Linked DNA regions of Homo sapiens. The protein of the gene in region 2 interacts with the protein of the main gene of each other region in a pairwise test. Each region holds a gene or a part of one and is shown on either strand. Other genes may lie near its edges.

Region 1 (4,088 bases), about 85 Mb from region 2:
TGAGGCAGAATGATTGGGGTACAAATAGCCAAAGATGTTGGTGAGAGAAAGTTCAAATAGTTAAGAATAGGGTATAAACTGGAGAGGAAAGGAGAGGCAAGGTGGGTGCTAGGATAAAATGGGAGGGTTGAAGGGTAGAGATATTTATGAGGAAAAAAAGGCAGGTATAAGGGGACATGAGAGACCTTCCTTTTTTTTTTTTTTTTAAATTCCATTTCTATTTGAACTCTCAAAAGAGAAAAAGAGATTGAAATGACAGAACTTTAGCTAATTTTAATTAAATAAACTTCATAAGGTTTTGTTGTTTTATAACCTTTAGAGTCAGAAAATTCTGACTCCAGTGAGAAAATGTCTTCAACAGAAAGCCAGATGGCCTCTGAGTATCATGTTCATATTTGAAATTGAAATGTAAATGTTACCACATACTTGCTTATTTTAAGGCTGTGGTCCTTTCATTTGCTTTCTTTCCTTTTTTTCATTTAGTCATGTAAATTTGAGCACCTACTCTGTGCTAGGTATCCAATGGGAAACATTATAGACACAAAGAACATTCCAATTAAACTTATATAAAAGGTACTTTAGTGTTTTTCCAGCTAGCAAACATAATGTTCTTGATTTAGTGTTATAATCTTTATTATGTTCAAAAATAATTCCTCTGTTCCAATTTAAATATATATTATCTAAACATATATATACACACATATGCAAACTAGCAAAAATATATATAAACCAGCACACACACACACACACACACACACACACACACACACACACACACACATTGTTGGATTTTATCAAAGTCTATTGGTCATCTATTAAAATGTTCATTTATAACTTGCCTAATTTTAACTATATATTTAGCCTTTAAGGATCTTTTTTAGTGTTGTATTTCTTTATAGGAAATGTCATTCTAATTCTGGAATAGAGTCTATTTGGTTGTGTTCATTCAAAGTATTGCTGGATTCTATTTATGAATATTTTCTTTGGCATTTGTATCAAAAATTTATACCACATAAAATTTAAAAAATGAGGCCTACAACCATTTTATTAATGAAAATAACAGAAAATACACTCTCAATGAGCCATTTACAATACTTCCCTATTTTCTGATTTAGAGATAAATCAGGGTCGTGTAATAGCAGTTGTGTCCAAGAAAATATAATGTCAAGAGGCCAGAATTAAATCCATACAGAAAATGATTGTGTTCATTTCAGAGTAACCTTTAAGAGGGCAATTTTGGGGAGCAGCAAGGGCAAAAGCCAAACTGAATGGGGTTAATAATGAATAGATGAGAGGAACTAGAAGCAGCTATTGCAAGCTACCATTTTGAGAACCTGCCCAAAGAAAGAAAAGACTGAAGGGATGGAAGATTGCAGAAAGCATGATCGGAGAAGAGATATTTTACTTTTAGTGAAGCTCTATACACATTTGTCTTCCTCACTAGATTTGTATCCCTAGAACCTAGAACAGAGTCAGCCAAAGAGCAGGCACTCAATACAAATTGTTGACTTGCTGCTAAAATTGTAACAGAGTACAAAGAACATCCTAGAAATTGGAGACAAAGGGGATAAGAAAACAGAGTTAACTTGGAAAGAGAAGACACTCATCTCTGACAAGACTGAAGATGATTACACAACACCATCATTGCCAACCAAGTCCTTTGGGAATACAAAGGTTAAATCCTAATCATCACAACAGTCTCTAAAGGAATAAACCTGATTTACAGATTTTGATAACAAAATACTTCTCCTCTTTCCATTTTCTACAATGCAACCAACAGCAACATCAAAGGTAGGCTTAACCAACTCTTCGAGAAAAGTCAGAGTTAATCCAGATTGTAAAGCGTCCAGGTCCCCTGTTTCTCATTTCCTCTTTTCTGTCGCTCTGACAACAGACTGGGCAGAGATGGAAAACAAAACAACTTACCAAACTGTGTAGCCTTTAGCAGCTCTGGTAAATGCATTTAGGGCTGTGTTAGGATAACTGTTAAAACGGACTCTTTAGGATAGCAAAACATTTTACTTATTTGTGTAATTTCTCTCTCCAAGTAGTACGATAAATCAGGAAGTAGTTAATATGTAAGTAAAGAACATAATGGCATAAAAATATCCCCACAGAATACACAGTTGATGTGTTTTAAAATTCACAAAAATTTTACAAAGTTGAAGAATGGGAGTAGGATAACAGGGTGATGGGGGGAAGCAGCCACAGAATTAGATAAAATGGTATAATTTCAGGTCTAAGGTGAGACACGACAGTTGCTAAAGGAAATATCTGCACTAAGATGACTTGCTAGTTTTGATCACCCTGCGTCAAAGGTAATGGGAATCTAATTGGAAAAAGATGGGCCCCGTTTTCAACATCGCTACCCTGGCAGCCACAGGCTGGGAAGGATACAGGTAAGAGCCAGGTCGGTGATGCCCGCCGCTCTCCCGAGGGCCGAGGGGGGCTCTGTCGAGGTTGTCCGATGATTCAGTGCCCAGTTCCCCGACCGCGCTCCGGGTTCCGGGCCTCCCCGCCAGCATCCTTCACTTCAGCGCCGCCTGTCTGCTCGCCCCCAGAACCTCCCTCATGGCAGCTCCGGCTTCCTCCTCCTCCTGCTCGGCCCCTCCCTACACTCCGTCTCTCAGGCCCCGCGTCACGGGCGCGGAAGGGTTGGCCTCGACAGCCCTAGCTCCCGCGCAGCGGCACTGGTGCCTGTAGCGGCGATGGCAGCTGAGGCAGCGGCGACCTCGCCGGGCAATAGCAGATGGGGCGGCAGCAACCCTGCAGCCGCCATCTTGACAACAACCGACGGCGCGTCCTTGACAACGGAAACCTGGGAGGAGCTACAGGTCGGGGCGGGACGATGTGCCCGAAGCAGCCAATCGCAGGCTCCGGCGGCCCCTCCAGCTTCGAGCGGCGGGTGGCAACCCAAGCATCCCTAGGGACCCGGGTTGTTGCGCGAGGGGTGAGCTGAGTGTTGTTTTAGAGCCTGATGCAGTTCTGCCTCCCTTTTTATGAGAGTGTTTTTGTGGCAGTACCGACAGTGACGAAAGACAGATGTAAAATCCTCAGATACAGGCAATTGCCACCGGGAGGAGTCTGCAGTGATTGTCTGGGGGACAATTTGGAGTTGAATTTGTTAAACTACTGAATCCTGTTGTGAGATTTTGAGTTGTGAGTCTTTCTGTGGCATCATCATCCCCAAACACCGTCTCTTTAAAATGTCTTTGTGAAGTGGAAATTTTCCTTCCCTGCATTCTCTCATCCACTCGGTAATGCTTCTGGCATTCCCTCTGCAGTCGTCTTCCTTGCCTTTGCCCTACTTAGAAGGTCTACATTTCAAAGCCTCCTAATGGTTCTCGCATTGCTGCCAGATTCTGGAAATGGACCATCACAGCAAAACTAGCAATCTCTTGGGAAGATATGCCAAAAGAGATCATCGCATTGAAATGGTTTTGGGAAGTATGGAAAATTAAATGGATTTTTGAGACACTAGTTTATTGGCTATGCAAGTGACAGTTTTGAAAAAGGCTGAATCTTATTGTTGGAGCCTAATGTAAATGCATATATAAATTCTGACTGTATTTCAGTCAGTGTTTTCTTGGAAAAATTCCCAGATTGGAAGCAGAAAGTACAGACCAAATAAAGATTATTCACCCACCATTCAAATGTCTCTGCCTTTGTGAATTAATTTGTTCATTTTAAGATTTCAAATAATAAACTTTTCCAGTTGAAACTGTTTAAAACAATCTTTGCAAACTTGGTTGCAATGACTCAAATTGGAATGTACACTGGCGACAGATTTTAAAGTGCCACAACAAATCCAGTTTCGATTTAAGACACAAAACACATGAACTCTCCTTCAGAAGCATACCAACAGGATAAAATATACAATTCTGACATGAAAAGCTAAATGTATACAACTGGACACTTGGCTATCTTGGCAAGTTTTTAATTGGCCTAGCCACAGGCAATGGCCTTGATTCTATTCCCACTGCTGTCATCACACGTTTGTCTCCCCATGGGTGATCTGAGTAAAGTAGGGCAGTGCAAAGTACAGATGAATATGAGAATATTAGAGTTGCTATTTGGAATATTTAGGC
Region 2 (3,194 bases):
CACTTGTTAAGATGGAGTTATAACTGTCATACATTTGGAATATTATGATCCCAAGTAGTCTTTTTATAATTTGGATTGTATCGTATGTTAGATTTTTGATAAAATTTGGCCAATTTTTACAGAAGAAATTCTCTGATCATTTAGTTCTGTCTATTTAGAAATATGTAAAACTGGATTTTTTTTTAAGTAATATGTGACCAAAGTTAATTTTGTCCCAAAGGTCTAAATAAAGAGCAGTTTCCCATATTTGGCTGTGATACCTTTATCCTCATTATCTACAAATGAGGAACAGGCTTACTGATAAGAAGCTGAAACAAGAAATTCTCTTCATTTTATCCCAGTGCTATTTTATTGATTAATTACTAAAAAGTATTACTTTCTAATTTTATTGCTGTTTCTGTTGGTGTGAGATTAGAATCATCTGACTGCTATTAGGTGGTTGATTTGTATAGCTGATTAACACAAATTGCATTATGAGCTAGTAAATGGATCTTTGGATAATGGGGTCCAAATTCTTAATGTTTATAAGTAACAAGTTCAAAGGCTTTAGTCACACCTGTTTGTGAGCTGAGCTATTATACATCTACATACTTAAAGGATGTATTTGGAGTGTTGGATTTTTTTTTTTTTTTTTTTTTTTTGAGACGGAGTCTCATTCTGTCGCCCAGGCTGGAGTGCAGTGGCGCGATCTCAGCTAACTGCAACCTCTGCCTCCCAGGTTCAAGCGATTCTCCTGCCTCAGCCTCCCAAGTAGTTGGGACTACAGTCATGTGCCACTACTCCTGGCTAATTTTTTGTATTTTTAGTAGAGTTGGGGTTTCACGGTGTTAGCCAGGATCGTCTCGATCTCCTGACCTCGTGATCCACCCACCTTGGCCTCCCAAAGTGCTGGGATTACAGGCGTGAGCCACCACGCCCAGCCTTGGAGTGTTGGAATTTTTAAAAATTATTCTTATGTCACTTTGAAATGTAGAACGTGTTGCCATGTGCGGTGGCTCACACCTATAATCCCAGCACTTTGGGAGGCCGAGGTGGCTGGATCACCTGAAGTCAGGAGTTTGAGACCAGCCTGACCAACATGGAGAAACCCCATCTCTACTAAAAATACAAAATTAGCTGGGCGTGGTGGTGCATGCCTGTAATCCCAGCTACTCAGGAGGCTGAGGCAGGAGAATCACTTGAACCCAGGAAGCGGAGGTTGCAGTGAGCCAAGATCACCCCATTGCACTCCAGCCTGGGCAACAAGAGCAAAACTCCATCTCAAAAAAAAAAAAAAAAAAAATTTAGAATGTGTTAGAGAAATTTAACAAGTAGAACAGGTGATTTCTGGTTGATAGACTCTATCTTGCAGTATATTTATTTCATGTATCAGACCCCAAAGTTGTTGCCTTGTTATTTTTTTAATTTCTCACATTTTTGAAAAATAGATGCTATCCTCTATAGTAAAATATTGAATCACTTTATAGTAGACAATACATATGACATTTAACAAATACTTGGTTTGAAAAAGTTTGGCTTTATTCAACAATTTTAGTTTGCCCACTGATTTTCAAATGTCTGTGGGATTGCTTATAACTAAGTAGAAAGTGAAGACTGATTTTTACTTAAGAATGGGATAGAGATGAGTTTTATGGTTTTTAAAAGTATTTTCAGTTCATTATTTAAATGTTGGGTTGTTGATATGGTCTTGTTTCTGATAAGGAAATAGGAGCAACTTGTTTTAAAATAACTACACTAAAAGACTTTCTTCATCTCCGTATAGAGAAATCCAGATTTCAATTAATTCATTTATTGGGTGCTAACAAAATTCAGGGTTAGAGTAAATTTAGGTCTGTTGGTCCATGTGGCCTGGTTTCCTAGCACCCATTAAACATAATGCTATCTTTTAAGCCTGAACATGTGGGTTTTTTAAATCAAATTGGAAAAAAATTAGACAACTGATGTCATGCTGTCTTGGTATCCATACTAAAAAAGTATCAGGAAAATAGATTATTTTTGTGCTGTGAAACACTATTCAGTGGAAAGTTTAGTGGCAACTTTTCCATATCATTCATGACTTAATACCTGAAATGCACTTTTAAATGTTTGCCTTATATCCAAGTGTTTACTTGTATCCATGACCTAACCGTCTATTGAAAAGAATGTTTGCAGATGCAGATTGCAATGTTGTTTGTATTCATAGGCAAAAGTCCTCTTCTCTAGTATAATTTTTTAAATCTGAGAGAATTGAAGGTACAGAAAAAAATTCTGGAGTGCCTGAACCACAGTTTGAGAGCACAAAGGTCACATTCTTTCAGTAAATTTGGGGGAAATAAATTTCAGCTACCTGGTTAGCTTCAGTGACTACTTACACACAGGGCTTTGGTTCCATTACTTGTTTCCACCACAGCCACATCCTAAATACTTGGAATATCCGAAAACAACTTCTAAAATCACTCAATAAAAGTATTCACTTCTAACCAACTCCTCCTCCTTTATACCTGCTCTGTGTTAGGGCGTAGTCTGTTTCCACCTCTGTAAGTCCTATCTAGGCTTCCTGATCTATCAATTCAGTATCATGATTGTTAACCCAAACGACTTCCTGGAAAATTCCCAGCCCTAGATGTATCCAAGCCCTCCTACCCTCACCAGTTATTTCTGGAGAAAGATCACCAAATGTATAAATCCGTATTAGTAAAAATTGGTTTTAACTGACCTCAGCACTGCCCATTACCCTTATTTTCTCTAGTCGGTTCTCCATTCTTACTATGTAAAACTTATACTCTGAAACTTGTTACCCTCTTTTTTTCCTTCACTCTTAACATGTCCTTGCCTTCTATCTTACATAAAAATAGAGACCTTCAGGCACAAATTCCCTGAACTTCACTTACTAAATCCACAGCCATGGACAAGATTCTGTGCTCTAGGTTGTGACATCCCAACTCTACCACAGGGCTAAACTCGGTGACCTTGAGCATAAGTTGATCTCTCTGGGTCTCCTTTCTGGGTAAGTAAAATGAGGATAGTAACAGTAACCCCCTTTGCATAGTTAGTTATTGTGAGACTTAGGTAAAATGAACAAAAAGCTTAGTGCATAGATAAGTGATCAGTAAGTGCTGGCTCCTGGTTCCCACCACCCCCTCTGCCGCCCCGAGATGGGGTCCTGCTCTGTCACCCAAGCTGGAGTTCAGCAGCATGATCATGGTCATGGCTCA
Region 3 (3,500 bases), on a different chromosome or scaffold from region 2:
CTTTCCATGCATCCCTTTGGATTTTTTTTTTTCCTGGGGATTCCCTCAAGGTAGTGTGGGCCCACAATCTGTGATATTAGGAACAACATAATCCATTTGAAGGAAAAAAAAGAATATTCTCCAAATAGCACTTACTGCCTTATTCTTTCCTTTGCTAGCGGAGCTGGCAGGGTTTCCCTTGGCATCTGTCTTCCTCCCAAGTGAGGTCAAGGGCAATGTAGAGGTTTTCAGCTGGTTGGCTGCCTGGTAGTTATTATTATTGTTTTGGTTGCCACTTAGTGTCTCCATGATAGATCGAAAGGCTCCAAAAGGCCTTTTCAGTTGATCCCCCGATTCGTTACTTGTGGAGGTCCGCTGGAGAGTCCTGCCCTTATCTTTGTCTTTTTCTCCATTCAGTTCAAGGCTAGGCTGCTCCATCTGCACCACAGGCTCCTCAAAGGTAACTCTCAGTTTTAAGTTCTGAGATGTCCTACGCTTGGAAGATGGAGACTTGAGGGCACTCTTGGGACTTGTGGCAACTTTCTGGGCAGCAGTACTGTCAGGGCTGGGCTGCTGAGGGTCACCAGAGGGCTGGTTTGGAGGAATACTCCCTGAGCCTGGATACTGGGATTCTAAGTCTGGTTCGCTGCTCTCTGAGGTGGGAGATGGGCTGTGGCCATCCAGGGATTTGGAGGCCTTGATGCTGAAAGGAAACCTGCGTCCCCCTGATGCCAAGGTGTGTTTCTTAATCATCAGGTGCAGGCTTTCTGCGCTGTCCATACTCTCTACGCTTTCTACAATGGGCTGCGGCCTTGGTCGGTCAGCCTTCCTCACTGGGGTAGTCTTGGGGTCCTCAGAGTTGTTGGAGTCTGTGTCAGACTCACTCAGTGACCTCTGCATCAGCTGTCTCAGCCTGGCTAACTTCAGTTCCCTCTTCTCCAGTGGGATCTTTTTAGAATTTCTAGAGGAAGCCTGAGCATCCTGGAATTCCAAGGACAGTTTTTCCTGGGTGCAGACATTTTCTGAGATTTCCTTTCCCAATAACTGGCGTAAGATTTTATCAGAATCTTCATCTTTTGCTTTGGGTCTAGCCCGGCTGGAGGCTGACAGGCTTCCAAGAACCTGAATCCCCTCTTGGACTCCTGGCTTGCTTTTGGCTACAGAATCATCATCTGCATCTGGAGATTTCCACTGGGACTTTCTGGAGGCAGGTGAGGATGGTGAACTAAAAAGAAGATGAAGGACATATGAGATGATTTCCTACTGGGTTGAAATGACTCAAGTCACTACATGGTCTTTACTGACACTAATAATGTATAAGTAAATAAGAACAGAATACAGATAAGTACATAATTTCTTTTCGAAACAATGTGCAAATACTCCATAGTATCAGCTATAAGGTGCCTTATGCCTTCGGCTATAACTACCATGACTACTAAATTTGTCTGTTTTACTGTTTATACATCAATTTTGCATAAATTTTCTCAGTTAATTCCATTTTCAACAAACTTATCAAGCTATATATATATATCTCCTATTCCCACTTCACAGATGAAGAATTGAAAGATTCAATTCTTACAAAAGAGTAAATGACTTGTTTATAGTCGTGGAATGAAGAAATAGCAGAATCAGAGAATACAGCAGGTCTTCAGACTCTAGGTCCAGTGCCTTTTTCACTGTGATTTCTCATTTTTATTCCTCTTTATAAGAAGAAAATGTTTTCTGTTGTCATCCTCTTAAAATATATCAAAGGAAGTTCAGAAGAAGGCTTAACAATTTAGGATACTTAAGAATGCTAAACAACAATGTGCTGGTATTACCTGGGTGAAGAAGGGAGTGACTTGCCCTCTGATTTCTGGGCTTCTAGAAATTGTTGGAGTTGGTTCTGCAGCGTGACACGTTCTACTGTTTGTCTGGGGAAAACAACCAAAACACATGAGGACTCTGATACTGGTTACTGCTATAAATTAGGGTGTATAATATTTTTCGTAATAATTTCCAGTAAGTTGCAATAAATACAAAAGCCTTAAAATGTGCATAATATTCATCCTTACAGGTTCAGAAATTTTCCTAAGGAAACAATCAAAAGTACCCCAAAAAGATATGTATTGTCAATATTAATGAAAAATTATAAGTAACCTAAATGCTTAGCAGTAAGTCTCAGTGAACAAATTATAATTATTTCTATAATGACAGCTATTAAAATGATAATATGTTTGAGTATCTATGGACATAGAAGAAGTCTTCCTAATTATGTCTATATAATGTAGATATAAAGCATAGTTTCATATATATAAATATGTATATATGAAGTATACTTTACTTTCATTAAATAAAAAAGGAAACTACAAAATACTATTTGCAGCATACAATCTCTGACTTACTATAACTTGTGATTTTTCAAATTTACAGTGGTGAGAAAGTGATATGGATTCAGTAGAAACTGTACTTTGAGTATCCATACAGCCATTCTTTCTCACTTTCAGTACAGTAGTCAATACATTACATGGGATATTAAAACTTTATCATAAAGTACAATTTGTGTTAGATGATTTTGCCCAACTGTAGGCTAATGTAAGTGGTCTGAACACGCTTAAGGTAGGCTAGGCTAGGATACGATGTTCTACAGGTTAGGTGTATTAAATGCATTTTTACCTTATGATATTTTCAATTTGTGATGTGTTCATTGGGATGTAAACCCACGGTAAATTTAGGAGCATCTGTAACCTCATTTTTTTTTTTGAGTCGGAGTCTTGCTCTTTTGCCCAGGCCGGACTGCAGTGGTGCTATCTCGGCTCACTGGAAGCTCCGCCTCCCGGGTTCACGCCATTCTCCTGCCTCAGCCTCCCGAGTAACTGGGACTACAGGCACCCGCCACTCCGCCCAGCTAATTTTTTGTATTTTTAGTAGAGATGGGGTTTCACCTTGTTAGTCGGGATGGTCTCGATCTCCTGACCTTGTAATCTCATTTTTAAGAAAACTAACTCTGTCTTTCCCACATGTATGTGTGTGTGTGTATATATATATATAAAACATATATATTATATATATGTATATAATATATATAATATATATATAACATATATAATATATATAATATATATAAAAATATATATAACATATAATATATATTATATATATAAAAATATATATAATATATATAAAAATATATATAAAATATGGAAGGATATATATATATAAAAAATATGGAAGGATATACTTCAAAATGTTATATTTACTTTTCCTAAATTGTTTGAATTAAAAAATTTTTTAATTAAAAATATTTTTAGAGACAGAGTCTTGCTATGCTTCTCAGGCTGGACTTGAACCCCTGGCTCAAGTGATGCTCCCTCCTCAGCTTCCCAAGTAGTGGGGACTACAGGTGTGTTCTGCCTAGCTTGGCTTGACCCACAGAACTGTAAGATAAATTTGATGCTGTTTTAAGCCACTAATCTTGTGGTAATTTGTTACAGAGCAATAGAAAACTATTATAATAATACAATTAGCAGAAAAAAATGACA
Region 4 (3,500 bases), on a different chromosome or scaffold from region 2:
CAAAACCCCTTTTTCCAAATAACATTTGCAGATTCTGGGGATTAGGACATGAACATATCTTTTGTGGGGTTACCATGCAACACACTAAAATATGGTTCTGGAAATTTTTGCTAAGGACATCAGTAAGGTATGCTAAATTATGCAAAAATCTAAAGGATATTTAACGTTTGTGCATAATTTTAAAAATGGGCCAGGTGCAGTGGCTCACGCCTGTAATCCCAGCACTTTGGAAGGCTGACGTGGGCGGATCACTTGAGTCCAGGAGTTCGAAATCAGCCTGGCCAACATGGCAAAACCTCGCCGCTTGTAAAAAAAAAAAAAAAAAAAAAAAATGATTAGCTGGGTGTGGTGGCAGGTGCCTGTAATCCCAGCTACTGGCAGGCTGAGGAATGAGAATCGTTTCAGCCTGGGAGGCGGAGGGTGCAGTAAGCCAAGATTGCGTCACTGCACTCCAGCCTGGGTGACAGAGTGAAACTCTGTCTCCAAAAAAAAGTTTTTATTTATTTATTTATTTTTATTTTTGAGACACAGATTTGCTTGTCACCCTGCCTGGAGTGCAATGTCGCAATCTCGGCTCACTATAACCTCCACCTCTCAGGTTGGAGCAATTCTCCTGCCTCAGCCTCCCAAGTAGCTGGAACTGCAGGTGCCCACCACCATACCTAGGTAAATTTTTTTTTGTATTTTTAGTAGAGACAGGGTTTCACCATGTTGGCCAGGCTGGTCTCGAACTCCTAACCTCAGGTGATTTGCCCACCTTGGCCTCCCAAAGTGCTGGAATTACAAGCATGAGTCACCATGCCTGACAAAAGTTGGTTTTATATTAAAGGGTATGGCTATAAGGAGAAATCTATTTGATATGGCTATGTATACAACCAGAAGTCACAACTGCCTACCAGGTAACCACTGCCACCCTTGCTTTGGATAAAAGAATTACAGTCATTGTACTATATACATCATATACCCTAAGATAACAGGCTTTTCTAAATGGTTACTTTATTTTCCCCACTTACGCACTCACACTACTTACCAGTTCCCACCCCCACTTACGCACTCACATTACTTACCAGTTCCCACCTCCACTTTCCAAATGACCTTATTTCATGATTTTATTTAAGGATGCCTATATAAAAAGTCCCATTTATTCCATACAAAAACTGAAAAACAGATTTGTTCAGGCAATATTAAATAGATGAGAGGTTTAAAATCTGGTGCTCAAACCAACCTAGTCGCCTCTCCTGATTCTATTTAAGAGCATCTTGTATTGATTTATTGTTACTGATTCCAATGTGGGAGGTAACAGTACATTCTATATGCACCAGTCTCATGGGAACTTCTATCCTGTTTTTTACACTGAGCCTTGCTCTGACTAGTTACTAATAATTAGAGGATCTCTTTTATAACAGTCTTGTCTGAGTAGCCCAGAGTGTTTCAAAGGCATAATTAACTTATACTAATCCAATGAAAAAGATGATGAATATCCTTCCTTATTTTATTTTAGAGATGGTGTCTTGCTCTGTTGCTCAGGCTGGAGTACAGTGGCACAATCTCAGCTCACTGCAACCTCTACCTCCCAAGTTCAAGCAATTCTCCTGCCTCAGCCTCCCTAGTAGCTGGCATGACAGGTGCCTGCCACCAAGCCCAGCAAATTTTTGTATTTTTTAGTAGAGGCAGGGTTTCACCATGTTGGTCAGGCTAGTCTTGCCCGACCTCAAATGATCTGCCTGCCTCAGCTCCCCATACTGCTGGGATTACAGGATTATACATTGGGAAAGACAGTAACGCGCAAAGTCATTTTGTGCGGAGATGTAAAACTGAGAGAAGACAGGTAGCCTGACTTTCAATCCAACTCAATAACTCCAATTCGAAGGTGTATGCAATTCTGTATTTGGCCTCAAAAGACACATCAATCAGTTAGAAAAAGACTACAAAAAGACAAGTTCTGCAGAAAGAAACATGTCATACAAAACGCCCCTAGAGCTACGCTGTCCAATATGAATAAAAGTACGTAAAGTCACTCATGATAATCTTTCAGATCTATTGGCTTAAATGCATTATGAAAACTAATTTTGCCTGTTTCCTTTTACTTCTTTAATGTGGCACTAGAAAATTTTAAATTATATTTGTGGCTCACATTGTATTTCTATTGGACAACACTGCTGAAGAGATAGTTATAAAATAAATACCTTAGATTGTAGATACTTTAATTCTATTAGCAAATACTTATTCGACATCTTTTATTGTCAGGCTTATGCTAAGTGCTAAGACTTAAAGAGTGAACAAAGAAAATGGTCCCTGCCATCACAGAGCTTGCATTAGCTCCTATACTTCTGCACATTTCACATAGTCTCATTTGTGATTATGCATTAGAATAACTTAATTTAGGATACCTTACCATTTTCAGGGGCAAATACCAATACGTGACTTAGAAATCACAAAATATAAATCAACAGATTCATGATAATGAGCTTATTTTTGTGATACAATATTTATATTAATACGTTATATAATATTTATCTGGAAACCTAACATCATCACATTCCCAAAAGCTTCTCCTGGTTTCTTGCTCCTTCCCTCTAACAACTCTGGCTCCCTCCTTATGGCTCACTTCTACCAAAGTCTCTTCAATTGGCAACCTGCCTGCTATTCAAATCATAAGGACTATTTTTATCCTCAGGGGTCTCCCCAACAGGACAGAAGTTAAAAATGCTAAGTATACATAATTTCATGGGGCCAACTCCAGTTTTTTGAACCAAAGACTCAGTTTCGAAGTTTCTTTTGGGCGTAAACAAGCTAAGGTGATTTCTGAGCAGGATTTTTGCTTCAGAATTCAATGCACAAACTTATTTCAGAGTTAAAACAACTGAACACTTCTGTCATATTGAGAGTTTCATGTAACAAAACCTTTCCTAATAGGACTTCTAAAACAAATTAACAGTAATTCTTTAGTAAATGATTTATAAAATAAAATACTAGATAACATCAATAGGATAAGACTACATAATGGTTTTAAGGCTAATGGCATAGCTTTTTAAAAAAGTTATCAATAAAAATAATTCTTCAGGTGTTAATGACAGTGATAAAGAGAGCAATGCAAGCAAAACCTCCTTTATCAAGAAGTGTTACTTTTTCCACTTTGATATAGAAAGTATCACTGACATATGATAACTTTTGAGAAACAAATGAAGTACACAAGTTTTAAACACCCAAAGTGATTTCACTGCCTGTTTGGTTGAAGCCTACCACCATCTGAAATACAGGTATGTTCAGCAAGGAAATATTATCCCTTAGTCTTTAGCTGTGCAGGTACGGTTAAGTAAATGAGTTGTTTCAATGTTAGACATCTTCTATCTACTAACAGAGAACTGGCATGGCTTAAAAAAAGAAAATTCATAATTACTCCTAGTTGGAGAAAAAAAATTCCTAAGTAAAGAAAAATTTAGCTATTCTCCGTAAGTAGTAAGATGAATATTTTGATAAATAGCTTTTAAGCTGAAGTA

Evidence for each region.
Region 1: the proteins of C11orf58 (region 2) and CEP126 interact in a two-hybrid assay, tested with the Homo sapiens proteins (one large-scale study listed by BioGRID and IntAct).
Region 3: the proteins of C11orf58 (region 2) and SNCAIP interact in a two-hybrid assay, tested with the Homo sapiens proteins (one large-scale study listed by BioGRID and IntAct).
Region 4: the proteins of C11orf58 (region 2) and RNF19A interact in a two-hybrid assay, tested with the Homo sapiens proteins (one large-scale study listed by BioGRID and IntAct).

What each region holds. Positions count from the first base shown.
Region 1 is NC_000011.10:101,913,722-101,917,809, reverse strand, and holds the start of CEP126 (centrosomal protein of 126 kDa), read right to left. Parts: upstream 2,801-4,088; 5' UTR 2,526-2,800; coding exon 2,398-2,525; intron 1,792-2,397; exon of another isoform or gene 1,288-1,791; intron 1-1,287. UniProt on the Homo sapiens protein: Participates in cytokinesis. Necessary for microtubules and mitotic spindle organization. Involved in primary cilium formation.
Region 2 is NC_000011.10:16,755,647-16,758,840, forward strand, and holds the end of C11orf58 (small acidic protein), read left to right. Parts: 3' UTR 1-2,694; downstream 2,695-3,194.
Region 3 is NC_000005.10:122,448,237-122,451,736, reverse strand, and holds part of SNCAIP (synphilin-1), read right to left. Parts: intron 1,893-3,500; coding exon 1,800-1,892; intron 1,205-1,799; coding exon 136-1,204; intron 1-135. UniProt on the Homo sapiens protein: Isoform 2 inhibits the ubiquitin ligase activity of SIAH1 and inhibits proteasomal degradation of target proteins. Isoform 2 inhibits autoubiquitination and proteasomal degradation of SIAH1, and thereby increases cellular levels of SIAH.
Region 4 is NC_000008.11:100,303,454-100,306,953, forward strand, and holds part of RNF19A (E3 ubiquitin-protein ligase RNF19A), read right to left. Parts: intron 1-3,500. UniProt on the Homo sapiens protein: E3 ubiquitin-protein ligase which accepts ubiquitin from E2 ubiquitin-conjugating enzymes UBE2L3 and UBE2L6 in the form of a thioester and then directly transfers the ubiquitin to targeted substrates, such as SNCAIP or CASR.